Regions from separate parts of the Homo sapiens genome. Here region 2 is linked to region 1. Evidence: fine-mapped QTL for protein levels in blood plasma. A gene starts in region 1. The other region holds a variant in brackets. All regions are shown on one strand. Distances are between the middles of the regions.

Region 1 (4,499 bases):
GCGCCCGCCACTACGCCCGGCTAATTTTTTGTATTTTTAGTAGAGACGGGGTTTCACCGTTTTAGCCGGGATGGTCTCGATCTCCTGACCTCGTGATCCGCCCGCCTCGGCCTCCCAAAGTGCTGGGATTACAGGCGTGAGCCACCGCGCCCGGCCTGCCTGGAACATTCTTCCCCCAGGTATCCCATCTCTGTAGCAGCCAGCTGGACAGACAGGCCCACAGCACAAGGCTAAGGTCCTGAGGTGTCCGTCTACCCAAGTGTGCAGGGAGCAATTCTGAGGGCATGATCCAAATCCACCCATTTCACTCCCAACACACAGATTCACACTGCAATGAATTTCTACTTGTTAAAAAAAATCTTTCTGGGCAGGGCATAGTGGCTCATGCCTGTAATCCCAGCACTTTGGGAGGCCGAGGTGGGCGGATCACCTGAGGTCGAGTTCGAGACCAGCCTGGCCAACATGGTGAAACCCTGTCTCTACTAAAATACAAAAATTAGCCGGGCGTGGTGGCACACGCCTGTAATCCCAGCTACTCGGGAGGCTGAGGCAGGAGAATCATTTAAACCCAGGAGGCAGAGGTTGCAGTGAGCCAAGATCGCGCCATTGCACCCCAGCCTGGGCGACAAGAGTGAAACTTCGTCTCAAAAAAAAAAAAAATCTTTCTGAAATTCTGAACCATCATACACAATACATGGTTATCAATTAGTTCCCAGAAAGAAGTGCTTTGGTAATTTTTTACTTCTGTGCTGTTAGCACCAAGCACAATCCAGAGAAAAAGAAGGGTGCTAGGCACTCCTAGGACAGCAGAGGGCGCGGTGGAACAGCACAGAACGCTCAGGCAATAGACCGACTTCCAAGAAAACCCAGTGCACCCAACCTTAATCAAACACGCCAAGCTCCGCCTCCATCCCCCAACAGGTGGAGTCAGGTCAGCATCAACAGATTCCCTCCAAGTCCTTTTCTAAGTCATTCCAGACAGCCTATTACCCATCTCTTCTTCTAGACAATGGGTTTCTATGTCCCCTGGAATCAACCACCCAACCTCTTCCACACCTTTCCCCCAAGTGGCATCATTCGCCTGAGGGTTCCACTGGTCTACAAGTCAGGTCATCATTCCATAAATGTCTGTAGTCAGCCTCCTCTAGTAATGCCGCCCCCGTTCGCAGCCCATTCCAGGCAGGTAACAACTTCCACACGCAAAGCCAGAGTTTAAATAAAACGACCGGGCGCGGTGGCTCACGCCTGTAATCCTAGCACTGTAGGAGGCCGAGAAGGGCGGATTACCTGAGGTCGGGGGTTCAAGACCAGCCTGGCCAACATGGTGAAACCCCGTCTCTACTAAAAATACAAAAAAAAAAAAAATTTAGCCGTGTGCAGTGGTGCGCGCCTGTAATCCCAGCTACTCTGGAGGCTGAGGCCGCAGAATTGCTTGAACCCGGGAGGCGGAGGTTGCGGTGAGTGGAGATCACGCCACTGCACTCCAGCCTGGGCTACAGAGCGAGACTTGGTCTCAAAAAACAACAACAACAACAACAACTTCTAAAGCCAGCCAGCCAGCTCATCTCCAATGGAACTAATATAATATGAAAGACTAATTATAAACTAATGGAACCGTGCACTGCAAATAATTTGGCATTTCTGTTCTCTAAATGCTAAGCCTGGTCCCGAGGCCACTCTCAACTCCTCTGCCCAGGCACCACCCACCATGCACCCAGATTCCCACCACCAGGGTGCCCGTGCTCCCTCTGGAAGGAGATGAGGGATTAAACGAAGAGGAACAGACAGTAAGATGGAAGGGAAGGCAGGGACACTGGAGAAGAGTCTAAGGAAGGAGCGAGTGACTCTGACAGTCACTATCAGCAAGTCAGCCCCATGAGGACAGGACTTTCTGTGTTTTGTTCACTATTCAATGCCCAGCGTCTAAAAATATTTCTGGAATGCAAACGGGTGGGAGGGGGAGATGCTAGGAAGTAAAAGAAATAGGATATTCCCATTCAACAAACATTTCCTGATTACGTACTCTTTGTCAAGCCCTATGCTGGGTCTGGTGTGGGTGGAAATCAAACACAAAACACAGATCCCCCCGGAGGCCCCAGAGCGATGAAAGCAACAAACAAGATACGACCAGAGATGGGTTTTGAAGGATGAATAGGAGTTAGCTGAGCTGTCAATAGTAAGAAGTAAGGTTGGTCCAAGGCACAGCGCTTTCTGAAGGAACAGGAAGTGAAAGGAAGGCGAGCGGCTATGAGAGACCGCGTTAAGCGGCACGGGGCGCTTTAGGCGCTGCCCAGTCCCGGCCCCTCCAGCCCGGGGCCCGCCGCTCACCACACGCACCGGAAGCGCTCGGTTCTCCCGGAGGCAGACCGGCCAGCACACTACCATCCAGTCACGTTCCGACGCGACGCCGCGGCCGCCAGCCAATCAGTGGCGGCCTCTGCCCCGCCCCCGCGCGAACAGCCAATGACGGCGCCGTCGGGCCGGAAGTTGTTCCGTCCGGACGGCGTTTCCACGGACGCCCAGGAGACAGCCGGTTGCTGAGCCGGGAGCGCTGACTGGCCCGGCTGGGCAGGGTAAGCGAGGGGAGTAAGGCCGGGGCGGAGTGAGGAAACAAGGGAGGGAGTGATGGAGGGACGCTGGCGCGGCGCCCAGTGGCCTGGCCCTCCCGGGAGTATCCTTAGAGCCCGGCTTGCTGCCCGCCGCGTTCTGGCACTGTGAGGCGCGGAGCCTGCCACCGACCCCTCGCCCCTTTCCTCTGAGCGCCGCCGACCCACCCCGTCTCCCTTTCCCACTGGCACCCTTCATCGTCTCCGCCTGTTCGCTTTTCCCGAGGAGAGAGGCCCCCATTTTTATTTAGCGCCTGCCATGTGCCAGAGGCTTTGCGTAGTGTTGCACTTAGTCCCCTCAACGGTAATGTTAGCAGGCTTCTCCATGCCCATTCCACAGATGAGGAAACCGAAGGGGAAGCAGAAAAGTAATGCGACCCTTGCCCAAGGTTTCGAATAAGTCCAAGCTGGGATTGAAACCCAGGCGTCTGTGACCCCAGAACTCCTGATCTTTCCACTGCACTGTGCCGCCTCGGTGAACAGATGCGGGGAATTTACAGTTTCTCTTTCCACCGCCCACGACTACACAAAATCAGTCACACTGACGCTGAGGGTGGGGAACGGGAAGAGGGTGGGGAGGTTATTTGGAGGCCAGCGGGGGGTGAGGGGTGGCTGATGCAATGACCAGCTAATGGCTCGATTCTCAAGAGGGTTTCATTGGTCTCAACCTGGCCCCCCAGGCAACCCACCCCTGATTGGACAGTCTCATCAAGAAGGTTGGTCAAGAGCTCAAGTGTTTCTGAGAATCTGGGTGATTTATAAGAAACCCTTAGCTGAATGCAGGGTGGGGAGAACGAAAGACAAAAGCATCTTTTTTCAGAAGGGAAACTGAAAGAAAGAGGGGAAGAGTATTAAAGACCATTTCTGGCTGGGCAGGGCACTCTCAGCAGCTCAACTGCCCAGCGTGACCAGTGGCCACCTCTGCAGTGTCTTCCACAACCTGGGTATGTATTGCCATCTTTGCCAGGCTTAGAGCTTGTTCGTGTTTTTAGCAAAGTGCTGAAAACCTTGGTTTAGGGGGTCAGGACTTGTGTCTTAGGATTAGGGTGTTATGCATTTTACTTCTTCCATTGACCCAAAGTTCAGGTGATTCACTGCTCCCATAGGGAACAGAGATCCTGGCTGAGCAGTCGCGGGCTTGGATCCGTAGCTTGCCTCTCAGCACCGTCATGCTGTCTGTCATAATTTTCACTGATGCACCCTCCTTCTGTGCTCAACATCAGAACGTATTGTCATTCTTATTGTGACACCCAAAAGTGTCTCGTGCCTGGCTTCATAGAAATTAATGTCTTTGCCTTTTAAGATAATGTTCATGCTGTTATTTGGCGGGGAAAGCAATCTTTCTTTTAGTGTTTAAAAAAAATGGAACATGATGGGTCCCAAAAGGTGTCAAGAAATCCTTGCTCTAAAGAAGTCATTTTCTTGTCCTCTGGGAACTTGCCAGTCCAAAGGTATTGTCACCTACACTCTGGGGCCAAGATAGAAAGGATGGTATTCTACCTCCTGGTGGTATTCCAGGGATCCAGAAACACTCCTGGGCCACATTCTCTTCTCACCTGCTCCAGAATTGGCTGTCTTGATGCCACCCTTCCCCAGATTGCAGAATCAGCGTGCCCTGATCTCTGTGAGATGATTTTGATGCAACCCAAGTCTTTATCATGTTGTTCTGTTAAACAATTCTATAGTCCTTTCCACTCCTCATCCCAATACAATACCCAGTTTCTTTAAGTGCCTATTATGCTCCTCCACCACAGTGGAAACTTTCAGAATGAGCACAAGATTCAAGTTCTTGAAAAGGGGGAACTGGGGGTTAATTTTCAAGAGGCTTTTTAGCTTTCTCCTTGAAGGTCTGCTGTGATCTGCTGTGGAGTAGGCAGTTTTGCTCTTTACACG
Region 2 (8,565 bases), 160 kb before region 1:
GGCTTCCTGCGGGCCCAGAACTCCACTGACAGCGCGGCCGAGGAGGAGGAGGAGGCCGAGGCGGCGGCCTTCCCGGCGGGCTTCCAGCATGAGGCCTTCCCCAGCTACGCAGGCTCACTGCCCACGTCCAGCTCCTACTCCAGCTTCAGCGCCACGTCGGAGGAGAAGGAGCACGCGCAGGCCAGCACGCTGACCGCGTCGCAGCAGGCCATCTACCTGAACAGCCGCGACGAGCTCTTCGACCGCAAGCCACCCGCCACCACCTACGAGGGCAGCCCTCGCTTTGCCAAGGCCACGGCCGCGGTGGCGGCCCCGCTGGAGGCCGAAGTGGCCCCAGGCTTCGGGCGGACCATGTCACCGTACCCGGCCGAGACCTTCCGCTTCCCGGCCTCTCCGGGTCCCCAGCAGGCCCTGATGCCCCCAAACCTGTGGAGCCTGCGGGCCAAGCCGGGGACCGCCCGGCTCCCCGGGGAGGACATGAGGGGCCAGTGGCGTCCCCTGAGCGTGGAGGACATCGGCGCCTACTCCTACCCCGTGAGCGCTGCCGGCCGCGCCTCACCCTGCAGCTTCTCTGAACGCTACTACGGCGGGGCCGGGGGCAGCCCGGGCAAGAAGGCCGACGGCCGCGCCAGCCCGCTCTACGCCAGCTACAAGGCCGACAGCTTCTCCGAGGGGGACGACCTCTCCCAGGGCCACCTGGCAGAGCCCTGCTTCCTGCGGGCGGGCGGCGACCTGAGCCTCAGTCCCGGCCGCTCGGCTGACCCACTGCCCGGCTATGCACCCAGCGAGGGGGGGGACGGGGACAGGCTCGGGGTGCAGCTGTGTGGGACCGCCAGCAGCCCTGAGCCCGAGCAGGGTTCCAGGGACTCCTTGGAGCCGAGCTCCATGGAGGCCTCCCCGGAAATGCATCCTGCCGCCCGCCTCAGCCCCCAGCAGGCCTTTCCGCGGACTGGTGGCTCGGGGCTGAGCCGCAAGGACAGCCTCACCAAGGCCCAGCTCTACGGAACCTTGCTCAACTGAGCGCCTGCGTGCAGGCCTGGCCGTGGTTCGCTCCCCGCCAGCCCACGTGCCCCAGAAGGGCCGGCCTCACCTCTCCCCAGCCCCCGCTGTTCCCCTGCCCCGGCCAACAACGAGGAGTCTGTTCCTCCCCGCACCTCCTCTCCTCCCCAGCCCTGTAGGCCTGAGGGGAGGGTCCCCCACACCACGGTGTCCACCCGGCCCCGGCCCGTGGAACTCCACTTAGAGCGTTTTTCACGCGTCCTTCCCCCATGTGAGAGGAGCATCCCCCCTTTTATAAAGCGAAACTATTTTTATAGAGAAAAAGGGTCTTTCTTAACGCACTTGGCCTCCAGCTCCCTGGACGGCTGCCTTGGCGTTTTCAACACAAAGCTCCTTTATTTTTTGGGCGAGGGTGCGTGGGGCCTGCCCCTTGGAAGGGAAGGGAAGGACGGTGTCCTGTGGAGACCAGACTCTGCAAGTGGGGAGACCACCCCCGCAAGCCAGTGACAAGGGAGCCCTGAAGTTGTGTCCACGAAGAGGGAGCTGAAACAAATTCGGGGCTATGAAGTGTTTTAAAAATCCATTCTTCGCAGTGTGGCCACCACACCGCCCTGAGCCCTCCCACGGCCCATCGTCCCGGGTGGGCCGGGATGATGCCCCAGTGCGGCCGGTGCTCATCTCCGCCCCCGGGTCCGCCCCCTGACACCGTCTTACTCTACCTCAGACATGAGGAGGCCCTCCATTCCTGGTTTCTGTAGCTTGCATTCTTGTTGTCTCTGATGCATGCCCTGCCAGTTAGTACTGTATTTTGCATTCATTAATAAAAGACACCGGTGGAAAGAATCTGGGTTGGGCTGTTTCTCCTCCTCCTGCCTTTTGGTCTCGGGAACCTGGGGTCCCTGGTGTCCCTCCCCAGCCTTGCTCTCTGCAGCCGAGTTGGGCCCCTTAACCCCACTTCACACCCCATCCCCATAACACCCCGTCCCCACCCCGCCATCCAAGTTCCTATCTAGGGTGTGGATTCTCCTGCTTCTCCCAACCCACTGGAGACAACAGCTCTTTCATCCCATTCTCCTGCGCGCTGCCCCACCGATTTCCTGGCCCCTAATCCTCGTGTCTCAGACTTGGCTTCTGCTCCTTGAGATGTACTGGGGCCACGGATGGAATGTCGGCAGGTGGCCTTTTCCCGGGCACACGGGATGCTGCCGCTCTGCTCTGTCTTCCTGTTGGTATTGGGAACTGGCTGTCAGTCCCGGAGCCGCTCCATTGGTTAGAAAAAAAAAATTGCTTTCTTTTCCCCGGCTCTTTAAGATTTTCTCTTTGACTTTGGCTTTCTGCAGTTTCCCTGAGGTGTGTCTGGGTGTGGAGTTCCTTCTTAGGAATCCTTCTGAGGATCCTCAGGGAGTCACATCTGTGGATTGGTGGACTTCATCAGTTCTGAAAAATTCTCAACTATTATTTTTTTAAAAACATTTCTCTGCCCATTCTCTCTGTTTTCTCCCTCCGGGTTTGTTTCCCAGACCTGTGCTACCTCAGGCCTGCAGTGGCCCTGTCACCCCCCACCATGCCCTGTGCCACTCCAGGCCTGCAACGGTCCCTGTCACCCCTCCCCACACCCTGTGCCATCCCAGGCCTGCAGCGGGCCCTGCCGCCCCTCCCCACACCCTCCGTGGTTGCTGCGCTCTCCCTGCTACACTGCACATCATCTGTCTTCCAACTCACTAATTCCCTCCTATGTCTATTCAGCCGCCACACACAGCCGCTGAGGTTTTCATTTCAGTTATTCATGTTTTTCATTTCTGGAGGTTCTACTTGGTTGTTTTACAAATCCACAGTGCCACTTTCTTAGCTTCCCATTCCCTGGAGATATTTTCCAGCTCATCTCTTATTTCTATCAAAACAGTGGGCACAACCATTTCACAAGCTGGTCTGGGACCGGACCATGTGGTCTGTGCAGGCCTCCTCGTGGTTCCCGCTCCGGCGGCCCTGTTTCTCTGGACGCCTGCTCATCTTGGACACATGCTCATCCCTGCCCTTGAAGAGGTGCATGTGTGGGTTCAAGGCTGAGGATGGAGGCCCCTCCCTAAGAGGGCCTTTATAGCTGTCCCTGTAGGTGCCTGGGGCATGTCCCAGTGGGGAGCACCTCACCCAGGTTCGTGTCTGGAGGTTCCCTGGCACGCCTGGCTTTGTGTGTAGCTCTAGCGTGGCTCTGCCTATGGTCAGACCACTCCAAGGAGAGTGGGCATCAGCCGTGGCTCCCTGCATCCCTGCCCTCCCCCTTCCTCTGCAGAAGAAGCCAGAGCCAGCCAGGCTGTGTCTTCTCCAGCCATAGCTGCCGTCCCAGGAAGCAGCCTCCCTGAGCCGGGGGAAGCTTGGAGAGGTTTGGGATTCTGTTCTCCTCTCTGGGGCCTGTGGGCAGAACAGGGGCTACAGCCCTCACTGAGCTGGGGGCAGCCAAGAGGGTGGGAGAGAGAAATAACTGGCACCCGGTGGGCAGAGGCATTCCCAGAGGGGAACCCAAGCTTCAGCTACCCCAGTGTCAACTGTGAGATTTCTGTCACCCAGACGTGGGAAAGCTGAGGCCAAAAAGAGGGGCGCCCTGGCTCTGCCACTTCTAGGTGACAAAGGCCCCACCCAGGTCTCACTCCTGGGGGCTACTGAATCAGACATACCTGCCCTGGGCGGCAGCCTTGGCCCAGATCTGGGGGGGCCAGACCCAGGGTGTTGGCCCCAAATTGCCACCTCAGAGCCTGCGGCCCCCAAGATGGCCTCCACACCTCACAGGGCTCTCCTGCCTGGGCTGCAATGCCTGCCACAGCCGGGCCTCCAAGGTGTCTTGTTCCCGGAGCAGCCAGGACCATTAGGTCCCTGCCTAGGACTGGGTAGGGACGGTGACTTTGGCTGCAGAGCCAGGCAGCCTTCAGGCGCAGGAGAGAAGAGGAAGGAGAGGGTCCACATGGCTTGCAGCGGCAGGGTCAGGCTGACACCCCCGGGGTGGGGGCCTGCCTGCTGTGCACGGCAGTCAGGACACTGCTCCTTGTGGTGCTGAGGCTGGGGAACCTTGGTTCACTATCCCCAATTCTCATGGCTCAAAGCTGGCTCAGCAGGGCCCTGAGACTTAGGAGCACCTGTGGCTCTGACCAGTGACTCTTCTCTCGCGGGATCCCTTGGGCTGGGTCTCGGTGCCCCCCTCCTTTCCCTGGTGCTGTTGTCAGCTGGCAGCCTCATGCTGGCCTCGGGGACCTGGCCCTGCCCACAAGGAACTCAGAGGTGGGGGAGGAAGGCAGACAGTGTAACACTCAGCTCAGGGCTTCCAGAACACAGGGCCTGTGGGCCTCTCAGAGGGGAGGGCCCTCACTGCTCCAGGAGGACGAATGAAAGGGGTCAGAGGAGAGGATCACAATGGGTGTTGAAGGATGAATAGGAGTTCAACAGGTATTTTAGGCAAATGGAACACAGCCATGAAAAGGCACAGATCTGTGACAGCTGGAGAGTTCTAGAAACTGTTCAGTGCTCCTGTGGGGCTCCCAAGGGGCTGAGCTCTGGAGCTGGCAGTTTCCCTCTGGATCTGCCCTTCGACCTTCTGCACTTGGACTGTCCCCACAGCTGAACGGGAAGTCCTGGACAGTCCCCATCTACCCAGGCAGCCGGCCTTGGCACAGGGTTCCCTGCTCCACCCCTGCCCTCTCCCTGCACTGAGATCCTGCCTTGCCGTCAGGGAGGCCCTGTCTGCACATCCGCCACCCGCCCACACATCCATGTATGTTTCTCCTCAGCTCTCGGCAGGGCAGCGCAGGGTTGGGCTCTGCCACCAGTTGACAGTGTCACCTTGGGCAAGACCCAGGCCCCCTGGCCAGCTTCCCTTGCTGGAGCCTGAGGACATTCATCAATGCAATTTCCAGGGACCCTCTAGGCAGCTGGGTCTCCCACTGTACAGACAGCCAAAGTGAGGTGGAGGTGGCGCCTACGGGAGGCCATTTGGGAAGGGATCCCAGGTGCAAAAAGAGCTCAGGCTTGGGGTCAGAGGGCCTTGGGCATGGCTCCCTGCCCTCAGGGCAGCAGTTTCCTCTGCTGGACAGTGGGGATCATGGACACCCTGTCAGAAGCTGCGAGCATCAGCTGCACTCAGAAAAAAGCCACGGCCACGCCCGGCACACAGCACTGCAGCCAGCACACACAGCCTGCACAGCATCTGGAGGTGAAGCCGTTTTTCTCCACGATGGCTTCGGATCTGGCATCCCAGATTTTCTAGGAGAGGATGAAGGTGAACACTCAGCCCCAGGAAGGTGGGTGGAGGGAAGAGACCATACTCCTTTTTCATTCCTGCTCCACATTTTCTAAATTTAGCTTTCTTATTTTAAAACTGCAAACGGTGAACTCCCTGACACCTTGCCAAGGATCAAAGTCAGTCTTTAAGAATGTTCTTTGGAAGAAAGTGTTTGGAAAAAGAAATAGATAAAAGCATGGTGCACACCTGCCATTCTTCCCAATAAAATGACCTAAAAAGGGAAGGGGCTGCCAGCCAGCTGGCTCCCACAGGCGCCTGTGTTGAGAAATCAAACCCACAGAGGGTGGAGCTAAGTAACCGCCACAGTGGGTTTTCTGTGGAGCCCTGGGTGGCCCCCCCGCCCCAGAAGGGTCAGAGCTTTGGGTTGGTTCAAGGCCACCAACTTGAAAATAAATGGACTTCAGGCGCACAGAAGTGGATGGCGTTTGTCCCAAGTGAAGTTGGGTGACAATCTGCAAAGTCCTTTCCTTTGCCTCGTCTCTCCTTATCCCCACAGGCCCACTTTACAGATGAGAAAACAAAGCTCAGAGAAGCAAGGCCCCTGCAAAGGCCTCAGACCAGCAGGAAATGGCCCTGGGACATGAGCTGGTCTCCTGGCTCCGAGTCCCACAGGTGGCAGGCAGTGATGTGTGCCCAGCACAGGAGTGGGGCCAGGAGCCCAGGCAGACAGGAAGCCTTTCAACAGCTATATCCCAGCCCTCAGAAGCCTGACACAGTGTCATCTGTGACTGATGGTCATGTTAAATCAGTGGTAACACGAACATATCACACGGTAGGGAACAATCAGCAAACGCTGCAATGAAATTCTCCATCACAAAATCACCATCAGGAAGGTGGAAAACCACTGGGGTTTGTACTGGGTCAGGAAGCAGAGCATCTGGACTCCAAGGTCTGGGGCTGGCAGTGAGGTGTGGGGATGGGAAAGGCAAATAAGAAACGGCCTGAGAAGCCCGGGCCTCCCTCCACCCCGACCACTGCAGCTTTCCCTCCCCCATGTGTCTGGGTTCATTCGCACAGCATCCATTCATTCCACAAACATGTGCTGAGGCCTGCTCAGGCCTGGAGCTGGGGAGACACACCCTCGTGAAAATACTTGTAGGAGGGTCCTGCACTTGGGGAGGAGATTACTTTCCCTGCTACAAATCACAGTTCCCACCACACCTGCCCAAGGAGCCTGGGTGTGGAGCATG[T/C]GTGTGACAGAAGTCAGTCAATCTGAGTTCTGGACTTGTCCAGTGGGAATGAATGAGGGCGGCAGCCCCAGCTGGTGGCTTCTGCCGTGAGATTGAACCTGGAAAAGGCCAATGCCCAGAGAGTGACAGGGACAGCAAGGGTAGGAGCAAGGCCCACCATCCCATGGCCCACTGAGGCGAGGTCTGAGAAGGGAGCCACATTCGCACTCTGCTCTAAACTGGCTCAGCTCCTGCATCAAGTGGTCAGCCTGACACTAAGTCCCAGCACCACTTCCTGAGTGCCTATGACACACGGGCCCTACCGGGAGACACACACACCCAGCCTCATGATCCCCACGAGATGGGCATTATGTGTTCTTGTTTCACAGAAGGAGAAACTGAGGAACTGGGAGCTAGGCAGCTTGCCCAAAGTCACACAGCAATGAAGGACACAGACAGGCCCACATCTGGTCACCAGGCCACGCCTGCAGTCACTTGTGGAAGGCCCACTCTGTGCCGGGGCCAGGCACCAGCAGGGAGCAGGAACCCCAGCCTGGGGCATGTGCTCCACCACAAATGCAGGTGTGGGGCATCGGTGGGGCCGGGGGATCTGTGGGGAAAGGGGGCTGAGGGTGACAGGAGCTTCCACGAAGATACTATCCAAGCAAGCCCTGAGGGAAGGAGGCTGCAGGAGGGGGATGGTGGGCGCAAAGGCCCTGAGGCACCATCAGCCTGCTGGGTGGGGGTGATGGGGTGGGCCCCAGAGGTCATAGGAGCTCCCCTGTCAGAACAGGAGGAGAAAGGGCAAAGGCCAGAGGCGTGACGAGAGGGAGGCCCCAGCAGCCACATGGGGCAGAGGGTGGGGGCTGCCCATCTCCCGCACCAGCCTCAGTACCACCACCCCCAACCGCCTTGCTCAGGCCAGTGGCAATCTTCACTTTCGACAGTGACCAAGCTCGCCGAGCACGGGGTGCAACTCTTTTCACCAAAACAGCCATTCTTGAGCCTAAAAGAAATACATAGAAGGTGCTCCCACTGTGGGTCATGAGGACCCTGCCCCCACATGGGCCAGGGGATCCCACTCACCCTGTCCTCAGGACACAGTAGGGGGACACTGGGGCCGTGCACTCAGCACCCTCAGTGCTCAACTCCAGCTTCCCCACCCACAGACAGGCACACAGTAGGTGCTGTAGACCAGATGCCTGCCATGTGTCAGGCTCTGCAGTGACTGTGGGGCAGGAAGACTCAGCCCTCAGAAGCCCCACCTTGGGGCCTTTGCACAGCTCCTCCCTCTGTCTGGGATACCCCTCCCACGGAGCCCAGGGATCCCAGTGACCCCCTGGACACACTGATACACAGGTCTTCACCCACCAGCCCCAGGCCAGCTCCAGCCCCCTCCAGGACACCCCCACAGACTTGACCTTCTCTGACCCTAGCTGTGAGCCTACAGGCTGGCTCTTCCAATGCCTGGCTTTATAGATGCAGAGATGAACCTGGGAGAGGAGTGGTGCCTTGCCTCGCCTCAGCTACAGTGACAGTGGAGCAGGGACAGAATAGTGGGGAGGGGGAGCCAAGTGCCCACCTCCTCCTGCGTCCCCCACTGCTTTGGCCCATGGGCAGCCTCCTCACATTCTCTGCCCTTCTCCACTGACTCCCCTGCCAGGGACACTGTCTTCACCAAGTTGAGGTCTGCCTCCTCCAGGAAGCCTTCCAAGGTACCAGTGGGCCCCACCCTCGCCTGTCAGCAGATCCCTGGGCTCCTGGAGTAGCCCCTCAGTTACAATTCTGGTGGGGGTTCCATCTAATCAGCCTGTACAGGCACCTGAGGAGCCAGGCCTCCTCCCAGCCCAGCTCCTCCAGGCTCCTCAAGGGTCCCTCACTTCTCCACGCGGCTCCCTCACCAGGCGGGCACACCTGCATGGGCAGCATGCACACTGGCGGGGCAAGGGCTGCCCAAGGGGCCCAAGGCTTGGGCCAACCAGGGGCCCAGCTGGCCACAGTCCTGGGGAGTGCAAGCGGCTGGGGCCTGTGAGGCTGGTGGGGCGCTGAGCTCCAACAGAATCCCTGAGGGCAGACCAAAGACCCAGACCACCCCCACTTCAGGACTCC

Which allele goes with the higher level. Positions count from the first base shown, and alleles are read on the strand shown. Strength reflects both the effect of a copy and how common the allele is.
As copies of C replace T in region 2, the plasma level of the protein whose gene starts at base 3,486 in region 1 goes down (weak association).

What was found. PIP is the chance, under the fine-mapping model, that this variant and not a neighbour inherited with it causes the effect. Protein levels are from antibody-based Olink assays in UK Biobank. Linkage for the fine-mapping came from a reference panel and not from the study's own genotypes, which makes the PIPs less certain.
Region 2: its variant is fine-mapped to the plasma level of the WARS1 protein (UK Biobank, PIP 0.93).

Annotation. Positions count from the first base shown.
Region 1 is chr14:100,374,334-100,378,832 of GRCh38, reverse strand. WARS1 (tryptophanyl-tRNA synthetase 1) reads left to right here and starts at 3,486. Exons shown (of 11, transcript NM_004184.4): 1 at 3,486-3,550. It overlaps WDR25 (WD repeat domain 25), which reads right to left and starts at 2,348. Exons shown (of 7, transcript NM_001161476.3): 1 at 2,338-2,348. RefSeq lists silencers at 2,215-2,264, 2,455-2,514 and enhancers at 3,025-3,384, 3,395-3,534.
Region 2 is chr14:100,530,424-100,538,988 of GRCh38, reverse strand. BEGAIN (brain enriched guanylate kinase associated) reads left to right here. Exons shown (of 7, transcript NM_001385089.1): 7 at 1-1,842. The coding sequence ends at 1,020. LOC124903382 (a long non-coding RNA gene) reads right to left here and starts at 1,017. Exons shown (of 2, transcript XR_007064334.1): 1 at 1-1,017. The variant T/C (reference allele first, on the strand shown) is at 6,478.